4 linked regions of the Homo sapiens genome follow. The protein of the gene in region 3 purifies or fractionates together with the protein of the main gene of each other region. This does not show direct contact. Each region holds a gene or a part of one and is shown on either strand. Other genes may lie near its edges. The genes, in order: ATP11A, PTER, NPDC1 and H1-6.

What was found.
Region 1: the proteins of NPDC1 (region 3) and ATP11A purify together in Homo sapiens (affinity purification with mass spectrometry; 3 studies listed by BioGRID and IntAct, with this or other methods). This does not show direct contact.
Region 2: the proteins of NPDC1 (region 3) and PTER purify together in Homo sapiens (affinity purification with mass spectrometry; 3 studies listed by BioGRID and IntAct, with this or other methods). This does not show direct contact.
Region 4: the proteins of NPDC1 (region 3) and H1-6 purify together in Homo sapiens (affinity purification with mass spectrometry; 3 studies listed by BioGRID and IntAct, with this or other methods). This does not show direct contact.

Annotation. Positions count from the first base shown.
Region 1 is NC_000013.11:112,686,139-112,693,051, reverse strand, and holds the start of ATP11A (phospholipid-transporting ATPase IH), read right to left. Parts: upstream 3,015-6,913; 5' UTR 2,636-3,014; coding exon 2,597-2,635; intron 1-2,596. UniProt on the Homo sapiens protein: Catalytic component of a P4-ATPase flippase complex which catalyzes the hydrolysis of ATP coupled to the transport of aminophospholipids, phosphatidylserines (PS) and phosphatidylethanolamines (PE), from the outer to the inner leaflet of the plasma membrane.
Region 2 is NC_000010.11:16,482,004-16,489,031, forward strand, and holds part of PTER (N-acetyltaurine hydrolase), read left to right. Parts: intron 1-1,134; exon of another isoform or gene 1,135-1,931; coding exon of another isoform or gene 1,932-1,946; intron 1,947-2,333; coding exon of another isoform or gene 2,334-2,381; coding exon 2,382-2,813; intron 2,814-4,348; coding exon 4,349-4,614; intron 4,615-7,028. UniProt on the Homo sapiens protein: N-acetyltaurine hydrolase that regulates feeding by catalyzing the hydrolysis of N-acetyltaurine into taurine and acetate. N-acetyltaurine has anorexigenic and anti-obesity effects that are dependent on GFRAL receptor and GDF15.
Region 3 is NC_000009.12:137,043,164-137,049,998, reverse strand, and holds the start of NPDC1 (neural proliferation differentiation and control protein 1 precursor), read left to right. Parts: upstream 1-3,821; 5' UTR 3,822-4,009; coding exon 4,010-4,121; intron 4,122-6,835. Other genes in the region: ENTPD2 (ectonucleoside triphosphate diphosphohydrolase 2), read left to right, coding at 10-129, 924-1,058, 1,139-1,342. UniProt on the Homo sapiens protein: Suppresses oncogenic transformation in neural and non-neural cells and down-regulates neural cell proliferation. Might be involved in transcriptional regulation.
Region 4 is NC_000006.12:26,106,895-26,113,014, forward strand, and holds H1-6 (histone H1t), read right to left. Parts: upstream 1,242-6,120; 5' UTR 1,200-1,241; coding exon 576-1,199; 3' UTR 518-575; downstream 1-517.

The sequences.
Region 1 (6,913 bases), on a different chromosome or scaffold from region 3:
TTTAGCCACCCTCACACATCAGAAGGAGCTGGAAAGCTTTCTTTGTCCCAGGAATTCTGACTATGTGAACACCAAGAAGGAACAGGGTCTATTTATCTATCCTTTTTAATAAAGTAAGTCACATAAGGAAACCATGAGGAAATATGAGTATTCAATCCCAGACTCTTTTTTCTGTAGCAAAAGGAAATATAATTTAGTCCTACATAGTGGACGATAACGCAATTACAAGAAAACAGATCATGACTGTTTCTGGAAAAAGTCAAATTAGTTTAATACCATAGACATGAACTTAAAATGATAGAGATGAATGGCTCTGTGTGTAAATATGGGTGAGGTAGCCAGATGAATACACTGCAAAAAACACAGGTGGAATGAGAAAAACAGAAATAATATTATCCCACAACTCGTATTCCCGAGACGTTATCCAATAATGTATATGCTGGAAAAGTTCACTAAAGAATATTTACCGCTTAGATTAAAAGAAAATGTGATGCCATAAGCGTAATAATACAGCAAAGGGGAATTAAAAATGCAAGCTACGCAAACACTTATATAGATCTATATAACAGAAAACAGCTGAAGGCCTGGAGAAAGGGAGTCAAGCATCAAAATTGGACGTCTGTCTGTCCCCCTCCCAAGATGAAGGGGTCAGAAACCGGCTGGGAAGGGGGGATTCTCCAAAGGGTGAGCCGGGCTGGCCCATCCATCTCTCATTTCTATGGAAAGAGGCTGCACATTAGCCCCACAACGTGACCCTCCTTTTTAACACTGAGTGTTAGAAGGGAACGGAATGAACTGGGAACACCGCGGGCAAAGTGAGTGTTAGTCCCTTCCCTCTTCCATTTCGCTCGAAGGAAACAAAGCAGGAAAATAAGGTGTCTAGGGACCCACACTTCTGAGCGACACAACTGAGAACAGAAGCTTCCGCCCAATAAAGCATTTCTCTTACACTGCAGGTTACCTATAGTCACTGTGATTGGGTCTTCTATAACGTTACCACAGTGAAACACAGGTTTACCACTCACATTAGGATTTGAACTGGGGGCTCGAGCACCAGTGAGGGAGTAACACAAGGCTCCTGGAGCCAAGCCTTTCAAGATCTAGCATCGGAATCATCAGAATCACCAGGGGTGAGTTCTCTCCACTTAAGTAAGTCAGGCTGACCTTCCTAAGGCTTCCCCGAGATCAGGAAACGATGTAAGGTGCACTCAAGTCTCCTTGACTCTCCGAGGTTTTTGGTTAATAAATAAATCCGGGGGAAAGCATTGATCTGGCATCCCCCACTGAAAAGAAACCTATCTATCTTTGGCCAAGGTCTCCTATTTAAAGAAGGCTCATAAATATGAAAGGCTGCCTGAGGTAATTCCTATGCCGGGAAAGAACAAAGTTCCCATAATACTGCCCTCTCTAGTATCAAACCCGGTGCATGCGACTTCTCGAACCTGTGATTGACCAGTGACCGCCAGCCTCTATGGAACAATGAAGCCTCTTGTGCAAGACAGTGGCAGGAAACGCTGTGCTTGGGACAGTTTTCTTCCTCTCCTACACACACACACACACACACACACCCTTTTTTTTTTTTTTTTTTGATACAGAGTCTCGCTCTGTCACCCAGGTTGGAGTGCAGTGGCTCGATCTCGGCTCATTGCAACCACCGCCTCCCGGGTTCAAGCGATTCTCCTGCCTCAGCCTCCTGAGTAGCTGGGATCCCAGGCGCCTACCACCACGCCCGGCTAATTTTCGTATTTTTTAGCAGAGACGGGGTTTCACCATGTCGGTCCGGCTGGTCTCAAACTCCTGACCTCGTGATCCGCCCGCCTCGGCCTCCAAAAGTGCTGGGATTACAGGCGTGAGCCACCGCGCCCGGCCACACACCCCTTTTTACACCTAACGCCAGGGATTCCGGTTTCCCCTCCTCTGGTGTAAAACAAAATCAACTTTTCCCCTTCCGAGTCTTCCCTCCTGAGCTCTTCACTTGCTTATCACTGAAGGGGCAAATTCCAGAGGAACCCAAGAAGACCCCGGACTTCTGATCTAATTGGTTACTTTAAGGTAAAAAATAAAAAGATTCCAAACTCCGCTTCTGAATCCCCCAGGGGTGTTAAAGAACAAACACAATTGCTACCTTTTTCTGCAGAAGTGTAACGCTTCCTCCCAATCCCTTAATCTTACAGACACGGCTGCGCGGAAGCCGCATCTGAAGGTTCCTCCCCAGACCCGGGCCCCGGCGGGGTCGAAGTTGGCTCCCTCCGGGCGCCCGGTCCGCCGGGACAGCTCGAACCCCAGCCAGCCTCTCCGAGGGACCCCCAGGGCGCTGCGGGCGGGAAGGGGGCGCCAGGCGGCCGCGGCCAGGGAGCAGGTGGCCGCCCGGGGCTGGGGCCCCGCGCTGTGCCCACCTAGACCCCGTCGGAAGCCCCAGGGTGTCAACTCCGAGGCCCCTCCCCAGCATCCCGCTCGTCCCCGGGGGCGGTCCGAGTCCCAGACATCGGAGACCTCCCGGGACCCCGGGGCTGGACCGGCCACAGGGTCCGGGCTGCGGGGCCGGCCCGCGTCTGTCTGGTCCCCGGGTCCCCCAGCCCGCGCCGGGAGCACTCACGTATCTGTGCACGAGCGTCCGCACGAGGCTGCAGTCCATGGCTCCTCCGGCCGCTCCCGCTCCGCCGTTCAGCGCCCCCGCGCCCGGCTCGGCGCGCCCATGGGCTCCGGGGTACTAGTGCGGCCGCGCCCCCCGCTCCGGTCACGGCCTCGGCGCGCCGGGCGGTGCAGGGGGCGGCCGCGGCCCCTCCGCGCTCATGCCCGGCCCGGCCGGCGAATGCTGGGTCCGCGGCCCCGCGCGTCGGCAGCTGCTCCACTGGCGGCAAGGCTGCTGCTCGGGGCCGCGCGCGCGCGCTCTGGCGCCTTCTCTCTCCCCGTCGGTCCGCCCGCTCGGTTGGGCTCGGCTGGAGCACCCCGGCCGCGGCGGAGCCTGCGCTCTGCTCCTCCCGAGTCTCCTCCTCCCCTGCCCGCCGCCCTCTGGAGCCTCCGGGCCCCGCTGGCTCCTGCCCCTGCTCCGGGCGCGCACGTCACCGGCGCAAGTGAGCATGCGCCCCGCGGCCGCAGCCCCCGCCGGCCCCGCGCCCACACCCGCGCTCGCACCCGCGCGCCGGCCCTGCCCCCTCGCGCCTCCGCCCGGGCCCCAGACCCTGGGGGCAGAGGGCAGAGGGCAGAGGTCAGAGGCCGCGGGGAGGAACCCCCCTGTTGCTTCCGCCTCCCGGGGCGCAGGCGCTGGGCGCGGCGGGGAAGGGACTCGGCACTGGGGAAACCCGGAGTTTCAGCCAGGGTCCCAGGGCTTCCTTCCCGGGTTCCTGCCGGAAAACTTTTCTCCTCCGCCCGGAAGCCTCGATGGGGCAGTGAGATCGCGGGGCGAGGTGGGAGTGTGGGAGGGGGCCGCGGGCAGAGAGCGGGAGTCCGGCTGGGTGGGAGATCTCCTGAGCCGAAGCTGGGTCTCGCCCCAGCGTGGCGCCACCGACCCGCAGGCTTTTCCTGCTCTGCAGATGGAGAGACACAGGGACGCTCCTCAGGTGGCTGCCCTGGGCTGCCAGCCTGTCAGTGGGAGGGGAGGGTGCAGACAAGAGGCCCCTGTTTCCGAAACCCCTCTGTCCCCAAAGCTGCGACAGCAGAAGACACTTAGGCGGCCTGAGGGGTTGGTGAACCACAGAGGAGCTCAGCTTCGCCTGGTCTCCAGCTCCCGGTGGCGGTGGCGTGTCCTTAATGCTGCTGGCTTTGAACTGGACTGAGAACTATTTACCACACAAACACCACCATTTCAATCCCGGAGAATGCCTGTTTTCCCTAGGGTGACCTGGCCGGGGTAACAAACACTTGTTCTCTAATTCCACGGTCAGCCTTGACTTAATTGAGGTACTTGATTTCCAACTTCCTGTCTTGCTGCCACAGATAATCACTGATGAAACCAAACAGGCAACACCTTTTGGTGGCCTGTGGAGAGCGCTGCCCCGTCTGGGTCTTAGGAAGGCAATTGAATATGAATGTTCTCCCGAGTGCTTGTGGAAAAGAGATGGTGTTGGCCACTTTTTAGACGAAGAGAAATGAGTACTAGTGAACACTAATCATAGTGACTAAACAGTAAACGGCTCCCATTTGTTGTCGGCTAAAGCACTGATTCTTCATTTTCCATCCCAGCCTGTCCTGCTCTGGCCTGCCCTGTGCTCAGGAAGCTGGCGGTCCCCCTCAGTGGATCTTCACCCACAGGGACAACCTGCTGCAGACCGGGTAGGAGGGAGGCAGGGGCCTCTTCCCCTCTCCTTCCTGGCCTGGCCCCACACCCACCAGTGTTGGTTTCACTCTGTGGCTACGATTCTTCCTGGGTGCCCTTTCCATTGCACAACTCCTCTAGGCTCTACGAACAGAACTTCTCCCCGCCCCCAAGCCTCTTAGGGTGAGACATGTTGTCGGTCTGCCATTGTTGCTGGTCCCTAAATAGCAGCACCCTTTGAAGGATCCTTGAACCATGACCACACCGCAACAAAGAGTCCTTCATCAAACTCGCTTCCAAATCCCCTCCCAAGAACACCTTCAGTTTCCTGCAAGAACCCTGACTGCTGAAGCCGGATTTTGACTAAGCTTCTACCTTGTAAACCGTGACTGTGGGATTGGGGTCGAGGCGCAATCAGAGGTTGTATAAGGCACTAGATCAAGGCTGCCTGTCTGTCAGGAGTGTCTGCTTTATTCAGTAGTAAATGTGAATTGTTTTTCATTCTGTTGTGAATACTGTTGGTTGACAATGCAGCAGCCATGCCCTCTCTATCCTTGCTGGTTCAGGTATCCACTCTGTGTGGCTAAGGGTAAACTCTGTCTCTTGAGAAAATCTTGGTAACTCCATTTCTCTTTCCAACAATTGGCTTCAAACAAGCTCAAGTCAATGAGTCCCAACAGGAAGCCTGCTGGGGGTTGTCTGGCAAAGGTTTTCTCACTCCTACAGGAACATAAAGAGGAAATGCTCCTTTTTCCCTGGTGAATGTTGCATTCCCTGTCTGGATGCAATGCCTGGTGCTCCGCAGCCCTTTGCACTTATAAGAGAAGGTGGCCGGAAGAGCATCTTCACCCTGGGGTGGCCGCCTGGGAAGATGAGAAGAGCAGGAGTCCTTGGTGGCACAACCAGGCAATTCACCAAAATCCTGCTGCCCTCACCTGGAATTTCCTGCTATGAGAGACGTCTCCGTTTAAACCACATGAGCTGGATTTTCTGTTTCTAACACATGTCAGCATCTTCACGGTAAATCTAAGAAAAAAAAATCAGGGCTATTAAAAAACAAAGTCCAACTCACCCTGTGCTATGGTCTGAAGGTGTCCTCCCAAATTCACACGTGGAAACCTAATCCCAAATACCTGATACCTAATCCCAAATATTAAGAGGTGGGGGCCTTGGGAGGTGGTTAGGAATGGGATTAGTGCCCTTTAAAACTGAGGTTTTTGGGAGCCTGCTTGCCCTTTCTGCCATATGAAGATGCTTAGAAGAGGCCTTCTATGAAGCAGAGAACTTTTCTCAGATGCCAGATCTGCTGGGACCTTGATCTTGGATTTCTCAGCCTTCAGAACTGTGGGAAGCAAACTTCTGTGTGTATGAATAGCCATCTAAAGGATTTTGTTACAGCAGCCTGAGCAGACTAAGACACCCTGTGAGTCAGTTATTTTTGGCTGTGTCACGAGTGACCGCGAGTGCAGGAGCTGAAACGGCAGTGAGTGGGTTACCATTTCTCAGGACCCTGCGGAATTGGTGCGATGGTGCTTCTGCTCCACCTGTTGTTGGCTGGGATTGTCCTGCAGCTGCATTCTTCTGGGGGTCAGCTGGGGCTGGAAGCTTCCTGTGGTCTAGTCACACAGCTGGGGTCTCAGCTAGGGTGATAGAACACTGGGGGCAGGCCGGCCTTGCTGTCTCTCTCTGGCTTCTCATCATTCAGTGGTCTAGCCTGAGTTTTTTACATGGCAGCTCAGGAGGGTCAATGTGGACGCTATACAGCCTGTAAGGCCCGGGTTTGGAAGTCCAAGAATATGACTTCTACCATGTTCTACTGGTGAATATAAATTCCAAGGCCAGCCTAGATTCAAGGGATAAGAACGTAGATTTCACTCCTTGATGGGAGGATCCCATGTACAGACAGGGATCCTTATGAGGGATTATGAGAACTCCTAATCCTTATGAGGGATTATCATACAGAGAATTTATGGGGGATTATCTTTGGAAATAATCTACCATAGACTGAATAAATGATAATGTAATGTGTTGGTGCCCCTCCCAGTGCATTCAAAAGTGAAACGACTGCCAGAACTCCAGGGCCTGCAAGTTTCTTCCTTCACATCTAAGCAGAAGGAGAGACTTCACAGTGACGTGCCAGCTAAGTCACGTGCCCACTCCTGCCCAGTCTGTCACGCAAGTAGCAGAGTCCCTGAGATGATTGGCTTAGGCCCGAGGTCAGTGCACATCACCAAACTAGTAAGTGTCCAAGGGGAATGAAATTGTCTTCGCCTCAAATAACCAGGACCTACCCCTGACCCACTGCGAGCACAGCTGCTTCACAGTGCTGGAGGGATGGGATGAATGAGGAGGAGGCAACAGCTAGGAGGCCAACCCCAAGACTTGAAATTGTGGGTTTGCAAATGGGTGCTTCAGGTGACACCCTGGCCACACCCTCACCTACACACAGACTCATAAACACCTATCCTGCATTCCTCCCTCCACCTTTCTTTCCAAAGAAATCTTGGATTCATTGGCCCCTAAGTGAAAAAAACTGGGGGGAAATAAGGGAGTGGGGGCAAAAAAATGAGGTCTTCCTGCAAAGACAGTTCAGAAGAATTGTTGCACCGAGACCTGAAATGACAAACCCAAAGCCAGAGCCAACTGCTGTAGACACAG
Region 2 (7,028 bases), on a different chromosome or scaffold from region 3:
TAGTGCCTGGCAGCTGTGTGGTGATTCTCTGAAGAGACACTGCCTGCTTTTCTCTTAGCCACCATTTGAATTGCCTAGCTGATAGAAGTTTGGCTTCCAGAAAGGCACTATCAAACAAAATCAATGGCCATGTTAGCCACAAGTCCTAAGTTCTGTCCAAAAGTCTAAATCCATCATTTATGCCTTATAAGCCAATATATCGCAAACACCTGAGTTCCAGATAATTGCAGTGGCTTGCTATAAATTGGCCTACAATTCTGTCACCCTCTGACCTCTGATGTTGTTTTCACCTTGTCTTACGTGTGTACTATACCCTTCACAAATTTTCCCCTTTGTTCCCCCAAATCATCTCCCCTCTCATCAGCCACTTTCTCTGAAAAGAAATAATCTAGGATATACGTGAATAGTTCCTAGAATTCGCAAAACAAAGCTACTATTTGTTGAATATGGTCTGCGTGCCAAATGCATCTACAGGTATTTTTACCTGTGGTATCTAATTTATTTTTACGACAGTCTATGAAATGTGCTTCGTTATTTTAATTTACAGATGACAAAAATGGAAGTCAAAGAAGGCTTTCAAGGGATATGGGGGAAATGATGACTTCAGAACACTATTTGAAGGAACAGTTTGAGAGCTTGGAAACACGTGATGCTCCTTTTCTTCAGTTCCCAGAGTCTGGGACTCGAGTCCTGATTTTGCTCTTGGCCATGCAGGAGTTTGTCCTCACTATTTTCAGTAGCTCTTGTTCCTTTATAAACCCTTCATTTAGGAAATGTACTTAAAATTTTTTTTTTTGAGACATAATCTCGCTCTGTTTCCCAGGCTGGAGTGCAGTGGCGCGATCTCGGCTCACTGCAACCTCCGCCTCCTGGGTTCAAGCAATTCTTCTGCCTCAGCCTCCCAAGTAGCTAGGATTACAGGCACGCTCCACCACACTTGGCAAATTTTTGTATTTTTAGTAGAGACGGGTTTTCACCATGTTGGCCAGGCTGGTCTCAAACTCCTGGCCTTATGTGATCTTCCCACCTCAGCCTCCCAAAAGTGCTGGGATTATAGGCATGAGCCACTGCACCTGGCCATTTAATTTTTAATTTAAACAAATTTTTTAAAAGGAAATGTACTTTTAAAGGAAAGTACTGGAATTGGAGTTCTTGGTATCACTGATAGACATTGGTGAACACTTAATTTGTGCTACAAATGAAAGCAAATCGAGGATAGAGAGGGCTTTGCTCTTTTTAGAGATAGCCGATTTCAGTTTCAATAAATCACAATCGCTTTCATTATGGCTAAGAATCTTTGCTTTTCAGTATTTTTGAAGTGTGTTTCTGTGTGCCCTAGACAATCAAGCATTCAACCTGAAGAGGTTCGTTTCTTGTTGTTATTTCATTATTCAACCGAGTGTGCTCCTCAGTTGTTTTGGGGAGGGGCATATTCTATGAAGTCGTGTGAGTCAGAGATCTTGTCTTTTGTTTCTTTATGGCTCTAATTTCTGACACATCATGGACCTTCAACAGAAATTTGTTTGCTTGGGTAGTGGAGGAACAGTAGAAAGATCAGTTGTGGCCACGAGTGATGGTTCACACCTGTAATCCAGGCACTTTGGGAGGCCGAGGCAGGCAGATCACCTGAGGTCAGGAGTTCAAGACCAGCCTGGCCAACATAGGGAAACCCCATCTCCTAAAAATGCAAAAATTAGCCAGGCTTGGTGACACATGCGTGTAGTCCCAGCTACTCAGGAGGCTGGGGCAGGAAAATCCCTTGAACCCAGGAGGCGGAGGCGGAAGTTGCAGTGAGCTGAGATCGTACCACTGCACTCTAACCTGGGCAACAGAGCAAGACTCTCCCTCAAAAAGAAAAAAAAGGAGGAAAGATCAGTTGCTTCAGGATATTTAATTTAGCTAAAAAGTGACAAATGAAACAGTACTGATACATGGTTAGTTTGGATGTAAGTTATTGATTCTGAATACTTTTTTTTAATTACAATTACTGTTGATTTATCCAAGAATGCATAGCTATGATTAAGAGATACAATTAAGTTAAAGAAAAGTGAACTGAATATCAAAGAATATTTCCAGTAGATAAGGTTAGGACTAACTCAGGCAGAGGACTCCCAGTAGAAGGGGTGGGAGGCAATTAACACCACGCACGTCACTTAGATCTGCAGTGGGGATAGATTCTGAAGTCGGCAGGATTGTGAGATCGTATCTCTAGTTTTATTGATTTGCCTTCTTACATGGGTATATGTTCACAGCCTCCCACCCCTTACGGACAAGAGTTTATGTGTGTGTTAAATATTCTGATTGTAGTTGTTTGTTTGTTTGTTTGTTTTTAGAAAAAAGAAATCCTCTTTTTAGAACATCTCTTGGTGGTACCATCAGAAATGTCTTCCTTAAGTGGAAAAGTCCAAACCGTTTTGGGCCTTGTAGAGCCAAGCAAACTGGGCCGTACCCTGACCCATGAACACCTGGCCATGACCTTTGACTGCTGTTACTGTCCACCTCCCCCGTGCCAGGAAGCTATTTCCAAAGAACCTATCGTGATGAAAAATTTATATTGGATTCAGAAAAACGCCTATTCCCATAAAGAAAACCTTCAATTAAATCAGGAGACAGAAGCCATAAAGGAAGAACTGTTGTATTTTAAAGCTAATGGTGGAGGGGCTTTGGTGGAAAACACAACCACTGGGATTAGCCGAGACACACAGACGTTGAAGAGGCTTGCAGAAGAGACTGGCGTCCATATCATATCTGGAGCCGGGTTTTATGTGGATGCAACTCACTCCTCAGAGACCAGGGCCATGTCAGTGGAGCAGGTAAAAAGCCTAAGTTCTTTGACAGTATTTGTTCATAAATTCAGAACAGCCAGAACCTTGGAAATGCCCTGGGTTCAGAGGTAGCTGGGCATGCTACGGAAATTTGCTAGCTAGCAAAGACATCTGCCAGTTGGGGCCCCAGTTAGTAACACTGTATTTCATAAAGAAAGTGCCAATTTTGCAAGCAAGCCTTGTGGTAAAGAAAAAAGAAAATAATAATAATAAGTGTCAAGGAAAGAGATCTTAGTGCACTGGTCATTGCAAAATCCAACGTGATAATAGTTAGATTTGTGTGTATCGTATCTGTCCTCAGTATTGGCACCACAGTCTATTTGTAAACCTCACTTTTCCATCTTAAGTTATGCTACCTCGATTTTTTTTCACCCTGGATTTTATAATAACCAGCAATGAAGATTCACTGTAGGGTGAAACTTGGCAGTCAAAGACTTGGCACATTTGTGAATATGTTTCAGTTTCCTTTCACAAAACAGGAGAGGTGGAAGAAAATTCATTCCCCTGTGTTTTGTCATAATATGGTCTTAAGAATGGGCAGAAGGAAGTAAATTGTTTAGGGACAAAAAGAATAAGGTGCAAAACCTTTTTTGCACGTGTATGTGTTCTCTTTCTAAACACACATGTATCTATTTATACATGTTTACACATATATGTATATATTCGTATGTATCTTCCATTGCCTGCATGACAGGCATAGGGTGTCAGCTCATTCTTTGCAAAAGATCACTTACTCTCTGGAGTATTTTGTATTTCAAAATTTTTTCTGCATTATTTTCCAACCAGGACTTTATTTTTTTAATGTATTTTTGTTGTTTAAAGACTATGCTGATGATGAGGATTATATATTCTTCCAACCACTTTTAGTGGTAACTATACATATGAACCCAAAAGTCTAATAGTAGTATAGTGTGCTGTGAATTTTCTATGCTGTCTATGATAAAAGACTGGAATAAATAGGAGAGAATTAAAGCATTTCTTGATGCCTTGTGCGGTGATGCAAGCGTGTAGTCCTAGCTACATGGGAGCCTGAAATGGGAGGTTCACTTGATCTCAGGAGTTCCAAGTCCAGCCTGAGTAACATGGTGAGACCTCTGCTTCTTTAAAAAAAACAAAGAAGAAAGAAAAAGAATGACTTGATACACGGGACATAGATTCAATTCATTGGCGGTCTTTCTATATTCTAGATGCTGCTCCCCAGGTTAAGTTACAGATTTTTTTTTGCTTCATCCTGAATGTACTCTCATTAAGTCACTTTGTCCCCCTCCAGCTTCCTAAAGCTATAAATTTCTTGTTAAATAATCATGGTATGATATTATCGAATCTTGGATTTAGTGCAACTTGTTGATTTTTGATTTGGCCAGCAAAATGCCTTTTTCCTTGGCCAATATTAATTGATAAATACTGAATACATTTTTAAAAGAATGAATGACAAAATAAATAAATTCATTCACATACTGTGGTGGATCTATTTTGATAAATTTCACAACCTATAAAATATATTCCTTCTCACTCTTCCTTAGCTTACCGATGTCCTTATGAATGAAATTCTCCATGGAGCTGATGGAACCAGTATCAAGTGTGGCATTATTGGAGAAATTGGTTGCTCCTGGCCTTTGACTGAGAGTGAAAGAAAGGTTCTCCAGGCCACAGCTCATGCCCAGGCTCAGCTTGGTTGTCCTGTTATTATCCATCCTGGACGGAGCTCCAGGGCACCATTTCAGATTATCCGAATATTGCAAGAAGCAGGCGCAGACATCTCCAAAACAGTCATGTCACACCTGGATAGGTAAGTAGGCTGTCTTACAAATGGATGCAAACTGCCATATAATTAATGCATGATCAAATTAAGAATCTACAGTAATCAGTCAATGCAATACTAATCACGCAGAGAAAACCACTAACTATATGGAAGGTAGTATTTATAAAGTTTCACAACTGACATGAATAAAAGTCAATGCTGCCATTTTTGTGTCCCTCCTCTGTGTCAGATAGTGTCCTAGGTATTTCACATAAGATATTTCGCATAAGTCATTTCCTTTAATTTACTCAATCCTTTATAACTCATAACAGGTGTCACTGTCTACTTCATTTCTTTGTCTCATGGGATGCTATCAAAGTAGCTGCCAATTCCACTTGCTCAATGTTTACCAGTAGTTGGAGTAATAAAGTTATCACACATATAAAGGGAGGGAATGTCAATGGTTTCACCCAGAGAAGAAAACCGCAAATATAAATGTTCACATTTGTGTCACTTGTGGTTTGAATCATCTGAATTTTGGAAAATGCAATTATAAAAAATAATAGTAATAAGTATAGCATGTGTTGGGTAGTATCATGCATTAGTTTCCTATTGCTACTGTAACAAGTTATCACAAACTGGGTGCCCCTAAACAACAGAAATTTAGTCTCTCAAAGTTCTGGAGGCCAGAAGTCTGAAATGAAACTTTGTCAGGGCCCCGCTTCCTCCAAAGGCTGCAGGGAGAATCTTTCCTTGCTTCTTCCATAGCCTCAGATCCAGCTGTTCCATGGTTTGTGGCTGCATAACTACAGTTTTTGCCTCTGTCTTCGCATAGCCTTTTCCTCACTGTCTATGTCTTCTCCTCTGTTTGTTACAACCACAGTTGCCATTGGATTTATGGCCCGTCCAGATAATCCAGAATAATCTCATCTCAGATCATTTACTTAATTATATCTGCAGACCTTTTCCCCAAATAATGTCACTTTCAGAGGTTCCAAGAGTTAGAATATGGACCTATCTTGTTGGGGTTCACCATTTAATCCCTACATATTATTTTAGATGCATAGGGGACAGTAAAATGAATGACTAAATGAAGAAATGCCAGCTGCTGTTAATTTTATGAACAAGTCTAACTGTTGCTAAGGCTACTCATTAGCCTTCAGTTGAATTTATTATAGAATTAATACAGCACCAGTGAGACTAATAATATATTATAGTTACTTCTATCTTGCCTATTGGAGTAAAGCCATATTAACATATTGATAAATCCTGATTATCAGACCAGACAGATTGCTATTTCATAAACTAACAGTCCTGCAAAATGTATTGATAAAATGCCTCTCCTTATGAGGCTGCAGTGAACCATGACCACTACACTCCAGCCTAGGCAACAGAGCAAGACCCTGTCTCAAGAAAAAAAAAATTCTTTTACTTAATAAAAAATACTGTGAAATCATGTGCAGGAAATATAAACAAGTTGTAGTTATAGCAGAACAGAGAAGTCAGTATTAATGGGGAAACTGAGGCATAATAGGATAAAGGTAATTCTCCTGGCAACCAGGTTGGTATCAAGATCCATACTTGGCTATCTTGAGGAATCTTCTGGTTGCACTGATAAAGTAGAGGCATGCTTCTATATACTGGTCACAGAGACAATGCATCAGACTGTGAAAACTAGACTCTTTGGACCCAGTGAGAACTTTGAATTCTAACTCTCATTGGTGTAACATCTTGGACAGCTTAATTTGAATTTAAAACAATGTATTTTATAATGTTGCCTTGTATGATATGGGATATATGTAGCACATTTACTGAGTAAGGATGATACTTTTTAAACATTGTGAAGTACCTCATACCTTCAAAAATGTATTACACTAATACTTTTAAATTTTATAAAATGTTTTAGATTCTTAAAAGCGTTGCATTCTGCAGTTATTATACAGTGTAATTGTTCTATATGTCTATTAGAACATAATCATTTATCATGTTCAAGTATTCTGCATTTCTACTAATTTAAATATATATATATATATGGAGAGAGAGAGAGAGAGAGAGAGAGTCTGTCTCTCTGTTGCCCAGGCTGGAGTGCAGTGGCATGATTTTGGCTCACTGCAGCCTCACCCTCCCAAGTTCAAGTGATCCTCCAACCTCAGCCTCCCAAGAAGCTGGGACTACAGGCATGTGCCTCCACACCTGGCTAATTTTTATATTTTTTGTAGAGATAGGTTCTTGCCCTGTTGCCGAGGCTGGTCTCAAACTCCTGAGCTCAAGCAAGTCACTCGTCTTGGCCTCTCAAAGTTCTGGGACTATAGGCATATGCCATTGTACCTGGTCATAAATTTCTTTTAATTGCGTGCTTGGCATTCCTTGGGATTCCTGAATGTAAGGATGTACCTTTCATTGTTTCTGAAAAGCCTCAGCCATTATCTCTTTAAATACTGTTTCACTCACATGTTATTTAT
Region 3 (6,835 bases):
CCCCTACAGGCCTTCTCTGCCTTCTTCTACACTGTGGACTTTTTGCGGACTTCGATGGGGCTGCCCGTGGCCACCCTGCAGCAGCTGGAGGCAGCCGCAGTGAATGTCTGCAACCAGACCTGGGCTCAGGTGAGCCCCGCTCCCACTCCTTCAGGGCTGTGCGGAAGGGCTCAGCCTCCGCCTCCGCATGCCTCCCCAGCCCTGCATGGACAGGCCTCTCGGAGCACCCGCTGCAGTGGGGGCGATGGCAGGCATTAGGCTGACTCCAGAGGTGGCGTGGCTGTGGCCGGTAGGCTGTGAACAAGTCGGGCGGGTTGGAGAAGCTTCGCCAGGCCCGACCCTCATCCCAGATCTGGAGGGCAGGGGGAGGCCGGTGCCCAGGTTTCTGGCTTCTGCCACTGGTTCCCTCCATGGTACCACACAAGGGAAGATGGAAGTGGGTCTGGGCACCGGGAGTGTGCCCACCGGAGACTCCAAGAGAAACGTACGAGTCGTCCCAGGACCGGGGTGGTGAGCGAGGCCCCATTTTGTCCTCCCAGGGCCTAGTCTCAGACAGACTGGGGTGAGGGAGGTGGGGACAGGCGGCGAGCCAGCGGGCAGACTCAGGCCTGGAGCTCGTCCTGTTCCCCTGGCCACACACCAAGGTGTTGCTGCCTCCTGCTCCCTGGTGGCCATGCCTGCTGTCCCTCCTCACTGGCCTTCCAGGCATGGGCGCTGGCTGGGGAGGGATGGAAGCGTGCCCTGCCGGGGGTGCCCCTCGGACTCGGTCTTGCCATTCGTGTCCGGGCCTGTGTGGTGGTCTCTGGCCTCGCACGGCCCGTGTGTGTCTGGGGAGGGGTGAAGCACGCCGCCGGCCCCCTCTCCCCGTGGGGCCGAGACCTCCTGGTGGTCGCCTGCCTGACGGTGTCCCGCCCGCGTCCCAGCTGCAAGCTCGGGTGCCAGGGCAACGGGCCCGCCTGGCCGACTACTGCGCCGGGGCCATGTTCGTGCAGCAGCTGCTGAGTCGCGGCTACGGCTTCGACGAGCGCGCCTTCGGCGGCGTGATCTTCCAGAAGAAGGTGGGCTGGGGCGGGGCGGGGCGGGGCCGACCTTGCGGGGCGGGGCCTCTCGGGAGCTGAGGCCACGCCCTTCCCCGCAGGCCGCGGACACTGCAGTGGGCTGGGCGCTCGGCTACATGCTGAACCTGACCAACCTGATCCCCGCCGACCCGCCGGGGCTGCGCAAGGGCACAGACTTCAGCTCCTGGGTCGTCCTCCTGCTGCTCTTCGCCTCCGCGCTCCTGGCTGCGCTTGTCCTGCTGCTGCGTCAGGTGCACTCCGCCAAGCTGCCAAGCACCATTTAGGGGCCGACGGGGGCAGCTGCCCCATCCCTCCCCCAACCCCTGTATCCCCACCCCGTACTCCCACCCCTCCCACAACCCCTGTACCTCCCACCCCTGTATCCCCACCCCTCCACCCACCCCTCTCCCAACCTCTCTCCCCGCCCCTGTATCCTGCATTCCTCCACCCACCCTCTATCCCCCACCGCTCCACCCCACCACTGTCTTCTCCATCCTTCCACCCCACCCTCAGCGTCTCTGCCCCTAAGGCAGCCCAGGAAATAGGAACTGAGACTCTGGTACCCACAGGAGCCTGGGTGGGCAAAGAGCGCTCAATCCAGCTCCTTGAACCCCTCCAGCCCGCTTCAGCCTGGGCATCACTGCAGGCCCCGTGCTCCTCCTCCTCCTCCTCAGGGCTGGGTCTCCAGAGAGTGGGGCCTTGGTCCTGAGAATCAGCCCTTAGAGGCTCCTTCTGTGTAGTCTGGGTCTGTACTGGGGAGGGTCACAGCCCACGGGCTGGCAGCCAGCCCAGCACCTACTTGTAAAAATTTTGTAATAAAAAGTTTTTCCTAGAGACGTGAAAGGAGAGTGTCTGTGGGGTGGGGCATCCTTGCTGTGGCCTGTGCCCCCACCTTCCCGCTGTTCTAGCCGCACGGGCCTGCCCTTGGTCCTGAGGGTGGACACCATCCCTCCCTACTGCCTTCTGCTCTGGAGCCAGGCCTGGGGCACTGGCTGCTGCCCTGGTGTGCCGTGGCAGCCTAGAGTAGCTGCAGGATGGCTGGCCCGAGGGAATGTTCCTGGGCCCTTGAGTCTTCTCTGGCCAGCAGAGTTCCCCAAAACCATCACATCCAGATCTGCGTTGGTGACCAAGGCCAGACTGAAGGTTGGGTCCTGGTACAGTGAGCCTGGGGGTGAGGGTAGAGGTCAGGGAGGTGGCGGAGAGTGGGTGGCAGCCAGCCAGGCGGCTTCCTAGGGGGCAGTCAGTGCTGGTAGAGACTGGCGGGAGGGCAGGCCCACATCAGGAGGTGGCACAGGGGTGGGAGATGAGATCAGGACCAGGACCCATAGGCAGGAATCTTGCACAGAACCTGGCTGTGGAGCTGAGCCATGCAATGGCACAGGGCACCTTGCCCTTCTCACCTGGGACTGAGTGTCCTGCACCTCCAAAAGGCATCCTGCAGCCCCAGCCAGGCCCTGCAGCCCCTCCCCAAGCCAGTTTTCTCCAGGATGGGAAGGCCTGGTCTTGCCCACTCGCCTCCTCACCTTCCTGGGAAGTGAGCTTAGACACTGTCTCTATGCTCAGTGCCCTGGCGAGGAGGGTGGTGGTTCTTATTCTGCTCTTCCCTCCCCTCTTCACCATTTTTTTTTAAAGTCATTTGATAAACCTGAGGGCAGCCAGCCCCAGCTTTGGAGTTCTGAGACTGGAAGGACCAAGGGGACACCCCGGGTTGGAGGTCTCACTCTTGTTCTCTGAATGACTAGTCAAAGGAGGTTTCTAGTGGGATGGGGTGGGCGTGCTCTTGGGAGGCAACAGGTGAGGTGCAAGGGGGGCATCAGAGATGCCCGTTGTCAGCTGGGCACAGTGGCTCACGCCTGTAATCCCAGCACTTTGGGAGGCTGAGGCTGGCGTATCACCTGAGGTCAGGAGTTCAAGACCAGCTGAGGCAACATGGTGAAACCCCGTCTGTACTAAGAATACAAAAATTAGCCCAGCATGGTGGCACGCGCCTGTAATCCCAGCTACTCAGGAGGCAGAGGCACGAGAATCACTTGAACCCGAGAGGTGGAGGTTGCAGTGGGCCGAAATGGCACCACTGCACTCCAGGCTAGGCGACAGAGACGCTGTCTCAAAGAAAAAAAAAAAAAAAGATGCCCATTGTCCTGAGGGAGCTAAAGGGCTGTCACCTGGGGACCCTGAACACCTTGGACAGCTCCCAGCTCCGGTCCTCAGTGGCTCCGGATCACTCTTGCCCCCTGGTGGCCTCACTGAGCGCGGCCGCCGCGGCTCCAGCCAAAGCTGCAGTCGGGGCCGGGGCCGTTCTGTGTTCCTGTATTTGCTTTTCCCGCGAGTGGGGGTGCCCCTGCCTCTGTGGGCACACCTGTGCCTTCCTGTGCACCTGCCCAGCTCGTGAGCACCTGTCTGCGTGCGCCCGGCGCTCCTGTGTCTCTGTGCGCTCGCGAGGCTAGGCCCACACAGGTCCTCTGCCCCATCGCGGGTGCGGGTGAGGGGCTCGGAGTCCTACCGGGAAGAGGCCAGAAGGGAGCGCATCCTGGAGAAGCCCACCCGCGGCCCAAACCCAGCCGGACTTCTGGGAACCGCACCGGCCCCAGAGACCGCAGGTGCCGAGACACCCTGAGGCCGAGAGAGGTCCAGCGAGGCCCGGAGAGGGGACCAGAACTGGAGCAGGGGGAGGGGGCGCAGTCTGGAGCCGCCCTCCCGCCCCCTCAGGTGGAGCGCGCAGGCGCAGTCTCCGCGTGCGCGCCTCGCCGGCGCCTCCATCCCGGATCCTTGCTGCAGCGTCAGCGCCGCCGCCCGTGCCTTTCCTCTTCCTCCTCCTCCTCCTTGGCATCCGCCTCTTCTTCCTCCTGCGTCCTCCCCCGCTGCCTCCGCTGCTCCCGACGCGGAGCCCGGAGCCCGCGCCGAGCCCCTGGCCTCGCGGTGCCATGCTGCCCCGGCGGCGGCGCTGAAGGATGGCGACGCCGCTGCCTCCGCCCTCCCCGCGGCACCTGCGGCTGCTGCGGCTGCTGCTCTCCGGCCTCGTCCTCGGCGCCGCCCTGCGTGGAGCCGCCGCCGGCCACCCGGGTGAGCGAGCGCGCTGGGCGCAGGCCGCGGGGCGCCCCGGGGCCGGGATCGCCGGGCGGGGACCGGGTTGCCGGGCGCCGCCGCCCTCGTCCTGCCCAGGCCCGCAGGCCCTGCAGGCCTGGTCCGCTGGTGGCGGGGGCCCCGCCTCGCCCACGATGGAATAAACAGGCCTGGCCGGAGGGCGCAGCGCGGAGCCTCCAAAAGGCCGCGCCGGATGGGGCTTCTGCCGGTTCCCAGAGGCGTACCTTACATTCATGGCTTCTTCCGCCGGGAGCGCGTCTGGCTCAGGCCTCCGCGCCGCGGCCATCTGGCTCTGGGCGGGCCCGCCGGGAGTCTGCCTGTGTGCGTCTCTGTGTCTCCGTGTTCGGGGCTCCTGCGGGTGTGGGGCTGGCCCTGAGTGCCCGCCGGCTTCGCTGCCGGTGCGCGTCCCGGGGTCGGGGCCTCAGTGCTGCTCTGCCTGTCCTCACGCCTTGGGTGGCGCTGGGCACCGGCCTTGTGCGCCATGGTGGGCGCTGAAGTTCTGGGGGCACTTATGGCGCAGGCTCGGGGTGCTGTTCTAGCTTCAATAGGAGGGAGACTGTTGCAGCCTCAGAGCCTCCGCCTGCATCCCCTGCCCTCGAGGGCACTGGCATTCTGTCTTTGGGACTGAGGGCTGCAGGTGGACTCCGGAGGAGGGTGATAAGCCCAGGGTCCTGGGACACCCTCTCACCTGCACAGATGGGTCCTGAGGGTCCAGAGAGCAGAGCTCCCTGCAGGAACCCAGGATGCAAAGCTGACGTTTTTCTGGGGGGACTGAACTGGGAGACTTTGCGACTGCATTCGTACAGTACTCCTGGCAGCCCTGCAGAAGAGGTGCTGTGAGCCCGTTTTACAGGCAAGGAATCCGAGGCATGGAGAAGTTAAGTGGATTGTGGCACAGCTGAGGCGCTGTCCTGGGCAGCCTGGTTCTGTGTGTGTGGCCTCAAGGGGCCAGAGTGAGGCCGGCTTCCTCCTGGGCTCAGTGCCCCTGGATGGGAGGTGGGCATGAACAGGAGAGGCTTCCGAGAATCAGAGTGTGCTCAGCCAGGAAAGGCGGAGGCCACCTATTCAGGAAACGGGGCTGCAGCTGCTGTGCTGAGCCCGGGTGGGTGGCAGGTGCCAGTCCTCAGTTCACCGGCCTCTGCAGCTTCGTGTCTGCCTCACCGGGAGACCTGGCAGGGCCCTCCCTAGGCAACTCCTCCCATTCCCAGTGCCCAGTGCTTGGAAGGGAGGGCCCTCAGGCAGCCCAGACGTTGGCGGGTGGAGGGGGGTGTGCCAGCCACCGTCCAGCTGCTCTTGTTCCTGCGACCTCTTTTCAGGAGGAGGAAGTGGGGGATGGAGGCTCCTGGGCTGGGGAAAAGGGCTAGGAGGGGCCTGGAACCCAGACCCTAGAGCCAGCTTTGTACCTCAGGCCCCTGCCTTTGGCGTGGTGGACGGTGGGGTATCAGCACAGGAGCGGGGACTGCCTCACTCCCCAGGTGCCAAGTTGGCGGGTGGGCCCAGGTGGACCTGCTGGCACAGGTTTAATGTTTAACGTGCCCAAGTCCCGGCCCACTGATACTGGAGGCTGCTGCCCCAGGTTGTGGAGGGTGTGCGGTGCCTGGCGTTGGCTCCTGTGCCCACCTGCCACTGCGGCTGCTGGAACTGCCTTGAAGGAAGGCGGACAGCCTGAGGGCCCTGAGTGTCAGGTTACCAAGGAAACCAAACCAGCCAACCAAGGTCTGGAGAAGGATGATGCCCCGTGTGGCCCCCGTGGCCCTGCCTGCAGTGTGCAGTGTGGGGCTGGGCAGAGAGGAAGAGTCCTGGTTAGCCAGAGGTGCCACCGCAGACTCCCCAGGCAGGGTTGATGGCCCTGCTGGGGTTCCCCTGGCTCCACTGGCTTGCTGTGACTGGGGACATTCCTTAGCTTTGAGGCAACTCAGCTATATCCCAGAGGGGAAACTGAGGCAGAGGGCCATTGCCCCCTCGCCCCGTTCTCCAGCACCAGGATAAGACTGATTAGCCACATGTGTCAGCTGGCACCGTGGCCTGGGCCCCTCATCAGCGAGATGAAAGTGTGGTTAGGAACTAGGGAACTAGGGCCTGGCCTGCCATCCCCAGCACTGCCAACCTCGGCCTCCTGAGGCCCTCGGGTGCCACCTGGCCCCTGACTGCAGCCCCTGGTGTGGTGGCTTTGGGAGTGACCTGCCTGGGTTCTGTGTCTGAGGCCAGTGAGGTCAGCAGACTCCATCTTAGGTGTCCTCGGTGCCTGGGGGACAAGCCAGAGGCTGGAGGAGCAGCATCCCTTCCAGGCTGCACACTTGTCAGTGCCGGGTTCTGGGGAGAGCCGCACGGGAAGGAGAGGTCGCTGGCGGCATCGTTTGCTGCTCCCCAGAGACAGACCTGGGCCCTTCCCTCTGGGACTCCCAATCTGGACGGGGTTCCTGGCTTGCTGTGGGGCATGTTGAGGCCGGAGGCTGGGCTTGTGGGGCTGCACGGCCCTGCCCAGGAGAACTCAGCACTGCCTGGACGGCGAGACTCAGCTTCTGAGCTGAGGGCTCTATCAGGCCTGGAAGTGGACCCTGGGGAGGGGTGGGGCAGGGTAGTTCTGATAAGTCCTAGGACTGTTCGCTTCCGGGTTCTGAGCCCTGGCGTCAGGGAGGAAGGGCATGTCCAGAACAATGGCCAGAACCAGGCCCGGCCAGCTCGGGGGGTGA
Region 4 (6,120 bases), on a different chromosome or scaffold from region 3:
AAAACCAGTAGTCTCCAACCTTTTTGACACAAGAGACCGTTTTGTGTAAGACAATTATACCACGGACCAGGGGGTGCAGGGGCTGGGAGCAATGATTTCCGGACTAAAACTGCTCCAACCTCAGATCATCAGGCATTAGATTGTCACAAGGAGCCTGAAACCTAGATCCCTTGCATGTGCCATTCACAATACAGTTTGAGCTTATGAGAATCTATCTAATGCTGCAGCTAACCTGACAGGCGGTGGAGCTCAGTTGGTTAATGTTCGCTCACCCCTCAGCTGTGCGGCTCAATTCATAACGTGCCATGGACAGGGACCGGTTACCGGTCGGTGGCCGGGGAAATGAGGACCCCTGGTATAGATGGTAGTCTGGCTATGTTGCCCAGGATGGTCTTGAAGCCTGGCCTGAATTAATTCTCCAATCTCAAGCCTTTTCAACTCAGCTGCATCACAACTTAAACCTATAGATAACTGTCACAGAAACTTGTTTCCAGTGTTACGCCATCTTAAAATAATGTGGGTGGCTCTTAAAAGAGCCTTTGGGTTCTTTCCAAATTGGCCTCCCGGAAAGCTCTTTACTTCTTAGATGTGGCCTTTCTAACATTAACTTCATGATGTTGGGTCAATTTTGACTTCGAAGCCCTTGCCTTCACTGGGCTCTTCTGCTGTTGCTTACCCTTGGCTCCTTTAGCCTTTCTCCCGCTCCTAACAGTTTTAGGAGTTGTCGCTCTCGGCTTCTTGGCTCTCTTATTGGTTTTAGCAGTCTTTGGTGACTTGGAGTCCCTGGATAAAACCAGCTTCTTGGTCTTGGCAGAAACTGACTTTTTAGCCTTGCTTCTGGTAGATTTAGGAATCACCTTCTTACTAAGCTTAAAGGAACCGGAAGCACCAGTACCCCTGGTTTGCACCAGGATTCCCTTGTTCACTAAGCTCTTGAGGGACAGTTTGATGCGGCTGTTATTCTTCTCTACGTCGTAGCCAGCAGCGGCCAATGCCTTCTTGAGCGCAACCAAAGACATACCTACTCGTTCCTGTGACACTGAAAGGGCCTCGGTGATCAACTTGGACACAGAGAGGTTCGGCACTTTGCGACTTGCACTTATCAAGCCAGCCGGCTTCCTCCCTCGCTTCTTGGTTGGAAGTTTCTCCATAGCGGCTACACCAGCACTGGCAGAAGCTGCAGGCACGGTTTCAGACATAACAACAGAGAAACGCAAGATGTAATAACCAGCGAAAAGCATGAAACACCCGGGCGGCCTCGGGGCCTTATATAGGGTAGGGCGCGCTGTGATTGGTGCATCACCTAGGCACCGCCCCCGCCCCTTGGAGGAGGAGTATTTGTGTTTGTTTTACCCGGAAAAGTTGAGTATAACAAAACCCCTCTTTACAGAATCTCCCAGGGTCTAGTGCTGAATAATCTGCGGAAATTCATATTTGACATGACTTTTCTCTTTTTAATGAAAAATGACCCTGGATGCCAAAACTATTCGAGAAAGCCCTCGATTTTCAATCAAATTCACGGAGAGGAACAAAACTTCCCCTTTTCCTTGTAAATTAATAAGTAATCTTTGGCAGAAGACTTATTTCATCTCTTCAGAGTGGTCTTCCAAATGGATAGCTTCAAATCGGTAGAGGAAAGAAATTATTCACGCCATGATTTTTATTTAAAATTATTTATATATGTGAGGGAAGTAACACAGATCTCTTAGCTGTCTAATTGCGGAGTCAGAAGATGCTTATAGAATTGTCAAAAGACTGCAGAGGATGTCTTTATTTAGGCATGTGCAATCTAATAAATCATAATCCACAGGAACATGGGTTGTCTGTAATTAAAGGTGCTCCCAAGTCCCTGTAGCTTTATAGAGGACTCTCAAGGATGGGGTAATATCAAGATCTCACACATTATGTAAGATTGGCCATAATCAGGCCACTCTCATGACCGGTGTCCTCAACTGAGTTTTGCTTCTGGTTTCATTAATTGAAGTCCCCTCTATCCCCCTGCCCACCCCTACATCCCCAGATAAACAGACACAGTCCCTCCCCTAAATTAACTATAAAACATGAGGTAGGAACCCTAGACTCAAGAACCTACTAGAAACTACAGACCCCATGTCTAACAAGACTGGGCGGGTTGGCTGGGCGCAGTGATTCATGCCTGTAATTACAGCACTTCGGAAGGCTGGAGGCCAGGAGTTCAAGACTAGGTTGGCCTGGTCCCTACTGAAAAAAAAAAAAATTAGCTGGGTGTGGTGGCACATGCCTGCAGTCCCAGCTTCTGGGTAGACTGAAGAGGATCACTTAGAGCCCAGGAGCTTGAGGTCGCAGCTACTGCACTCCAGCCTGGGCAGACCCTCATCTCTGAATTGCTTAATTAATTAACTGAGCTGGCAGATTTGGCTGCATAGCTGTGGGGAAAGGGTTGTTGGAATAATGTCCAGTGTGCTCCCCTGAGCTTCTACTGGAACAGGTCTTTGTGAGAGGCCTGGAGATAAGAGCTTGCTCACAAAGGCTGAGGCCTTTCTGGGATGCTGAATGAGTTTAGTGTGGCCAGAGCATAGGGTCTCAGCAAAGGAAAACTCCATAAGGGCCATTTGTGAAGATCCCCAAATACTTGTGTGAAACATTTGGTAGATATTAGAAGTTTTGTTTTGGTTTGGTTTGAGACAGAGTTTTGCTCTTGTTGCCCAGGCTGGAGTGCAATGGTGTGATCTTGGCTCAGTGCAACCTCCACCTCCCAGGTTCAGGCAATTCTCCTGCCTCAGCCTCCCAATTAGCTGGGATTATAGGCGCCCACCACCATGCCTGGCTAATTTTTTGTATTTTTAGTAGAGATGGGGTTTCATCATGTTGGCCAGGCTAGTCTCGAACTCCCCACCTCAAGTGATCTGCCCGCCTCTGCCTCCAAAGTGCTGGGAATACATGCGTGAGCCGCCGCGCCCGGCAGACATTGGAAGTTTTTAAGCAGAGAATTTGTTGTATTGTTGTAGTTGTCTTGGGTTTAGATTTATTGCATAAACAATCATTTTTGAGAAGGGCCCACAGTCAGAAGTTGGGAGTCTGTTGCAATAGTCTCAGAAGAATGGCAAAGACCTTGCCTAAGGGGACAGTGTGGTAAAGGAGAGAGTCTACATTTGAAATATTTCTGAAACAAAAGCCAAAAGATAAGACTTCAAACTTCTGATTGCAAAGTGAGATAGAAAAGTTTCTTTCTCTCTGTCTCTCTGTTATACCCATACACACACACATATGCACAAACACCTGAAAGAAAAAAAAATTCAGGGAACAGGCCAGGTAGGGTGGCTCATGCCTATAATCCCATAAATTTGGGAGGCTGAGGCTAGTGGATCACTAGAGCCCAGGAGTTCACAAGGCCAGCCTAAGCACATAGCAAGACCCTGTCTCTACAATTAAAAAATTACCCGGGTGTGGTGGCACGTACCTGTGGTCCCAGTTACTCAAAAGGCTGAGGTGGGAGAATCACTTGGGCCCAGGAGGTCAAGGCTGCAGTGAGCATGATTGTGCCACTGCACTTCAGCCTGGGCAAGAGCGAGACCCTGTCTCAAAAAAAAAAAATTTTTTTTTTTTTTCCAGAAAACAATACTATCTTAAGCACCAGCACTTTAGTATATTCTACTGTGGACTAGTTCATTTTTAAAAGAACACTAGGTTGGAAATCATGAGATTGATTCCACAACTCACTAAAGCACCGTGTCACTCAGTTTGGAAAATATTTCTCCTTAGAGAGATTACAGGTGCATCTTTCTGAGCACCTGTATGTTTTTACATTTGTTTGGCTTCTCTGACCTTTGATAATTTCTGAGTGTTGTACTATTAAATATTAGTGGCTAGGGGTCAAATTGTGGATCAGGTTGATCCTTATATTTACAAGTTGACAGATACGTTACTCCATTGCTTTAAAACTAACACAGAATTAGAGAATTTAGAAAATTCTTACATTCCATAATTTAAGACCCAGAAAAAAAAGATTCATATTTTGCATTAGATAGCTAAAATGGTACCATAAAAACAAATGATATCCACATATATATAGTATATAGTGCTTCTTCTGTGCCAGTCACTATCCTAAGTTTTTCTCTCCCTTCCCCAAAAATGTAGGAATTAACTTTATAGATGAAGAAACTGAGGCACAGGAATGTCACATGACTTGCCCAAAGGAAATTCAGTCTTCCTTTTTCAATTCTTTTTTCTTTTTACTTTGCTGCAGGGTCTCGCTGTGTTGCCCAGGATGCTCTTGAACTCCCGGACTCAAGCGATCCTCCTTCTTCAGCCTCTCAAAGTGCTGGGATTACAGGCATGAGCCACTGCGCCCAGTCAGGAAATTCAGTCTTCTAAACATTCATTATTGAAATAATATTTCCATAAACATTTTCTTAGATAAACTTTGGCATCTCTAACTTCTAAGTAGCAAAGTCATGGAAACAGTCACAGAGAAAATAACTTTATTTTAAAAATAATAAATTCTTATCTCCGGTGATAAGAAAAGTATACAGCCCATTTTTTAAAGTATTAATTTTACATTCTAATTTGGTTTTTTTAATGTTTACCATATATTTCTCTTTCTACATATGTGTGTGAGTGAATAAAATAAAGGCATCTACAGATTTTTACATGTTCAGTGAGATTAGCAGGGTTTCACTTGACAGCACTCTTACCATACTCACTTCTTGGCTTTTCCTGATATCTAACATTTTTAAAATGAGTAGTCCCTTTTCATATGATTCTTCCTTTTTCAAGCACTATTTTTGAACTTTATATTTGATTGGCAATAATTTTTACAGACATTATTTTACGATTAACTTTAACTCTGTTCAAATGATTTCTTCATTTTCAAGTATTTTATTTGAACTGCTTTTTTTGGTTCAACTACTGAGTATTTAATTTGTCTGTTTTGTAGAAAGGGTATGTAGATAATTCCATGTTTTGTAAAAGTTGTCTCTAAAAATCTAACAAGTGTAAGTACGATGCTATTACAGGGCTGAGAGACACAGAAAAAACACACACACACACACAAAATTTTTTTTTAAGTATTACTTGGTCTCTAAACTAAAGAATTTACCATCTATTTTGGGAGATGAAATCCAAACATAAGCAATGACAACAATTATTATGTGCTTAAATCAATGTCCAAGACAATAATTGACCCCAAGGCAGGGAAATCACTGAGAGAGTATAGCAGAGAAGGTGTCCTCTCTGTTCAGATGAGCCTGAATAATTTGTTCAGTAGGTTTCTGCTACTCATTTATAAACTGCACATCTTCTGTAGTCCTGGAAAATGTCTAAGAGGAGAGAGGAACTAAGATCAGGGCCACCATTTAATTAGGAAGTTCTGGGAGTACCTGACCCAGAAGAAAGATCAGCATAGCTGAAAATCACCCATAGGAGAAACATCTAGGTAATCTTATTTCTGTTCCACCTGACATTTCAACCTCTCTTTTCAGCTATAAGTATATAAGTACTTATATGTAAGTAAAGAAATTTACCCACATCATGTTGTTTTTTATTCAATGCTTAACATGTATAATGCTAACAACACAGACTTGATGTCCAAAACATTTCTATGAACAGCTCATTACTGGATGACTGAAATAATTTTTCCAAGCCACGTGGAGGTTAATGAGTCAGTTTTTGAAAGCAAGGAGAGAAAAACATTAGAATTTAAGGTGACGTTTCTGTTGCGTTGTAATCCAGAATACAGAATAGTCAGAGAAAAGCAGAAAGTCTTTCTTCTTAAATTTTCTGAAAACCAAGGTGTGCATTAAAATGGTACATGCCTACTTCCCTTTCCCTTTACCCTTTTTTCCTGCATGGAACATAGATATGACCCCTAGACATGCTGCAGATGACCATGAGGTTGAAAGATACATGGAAGATGGTTAACACAGGATGATAGAAGAGACCTGCATACTTGGGCAGCCTAGACAGCTCCTGCCAGCCCCCAACAAAACAGCCTAGCCTTCTTGCCAATCAAGAAAAAAAATCCCTTCTGGTAACCCACTGTAAGTGAATTTCTGTAAATGTGGCCCAATGTATCCATAATTGATATACAAATATTAGTTTAGTGGGTAGCACCTCTCCATGAGCATGTCGACTTCATGAGAC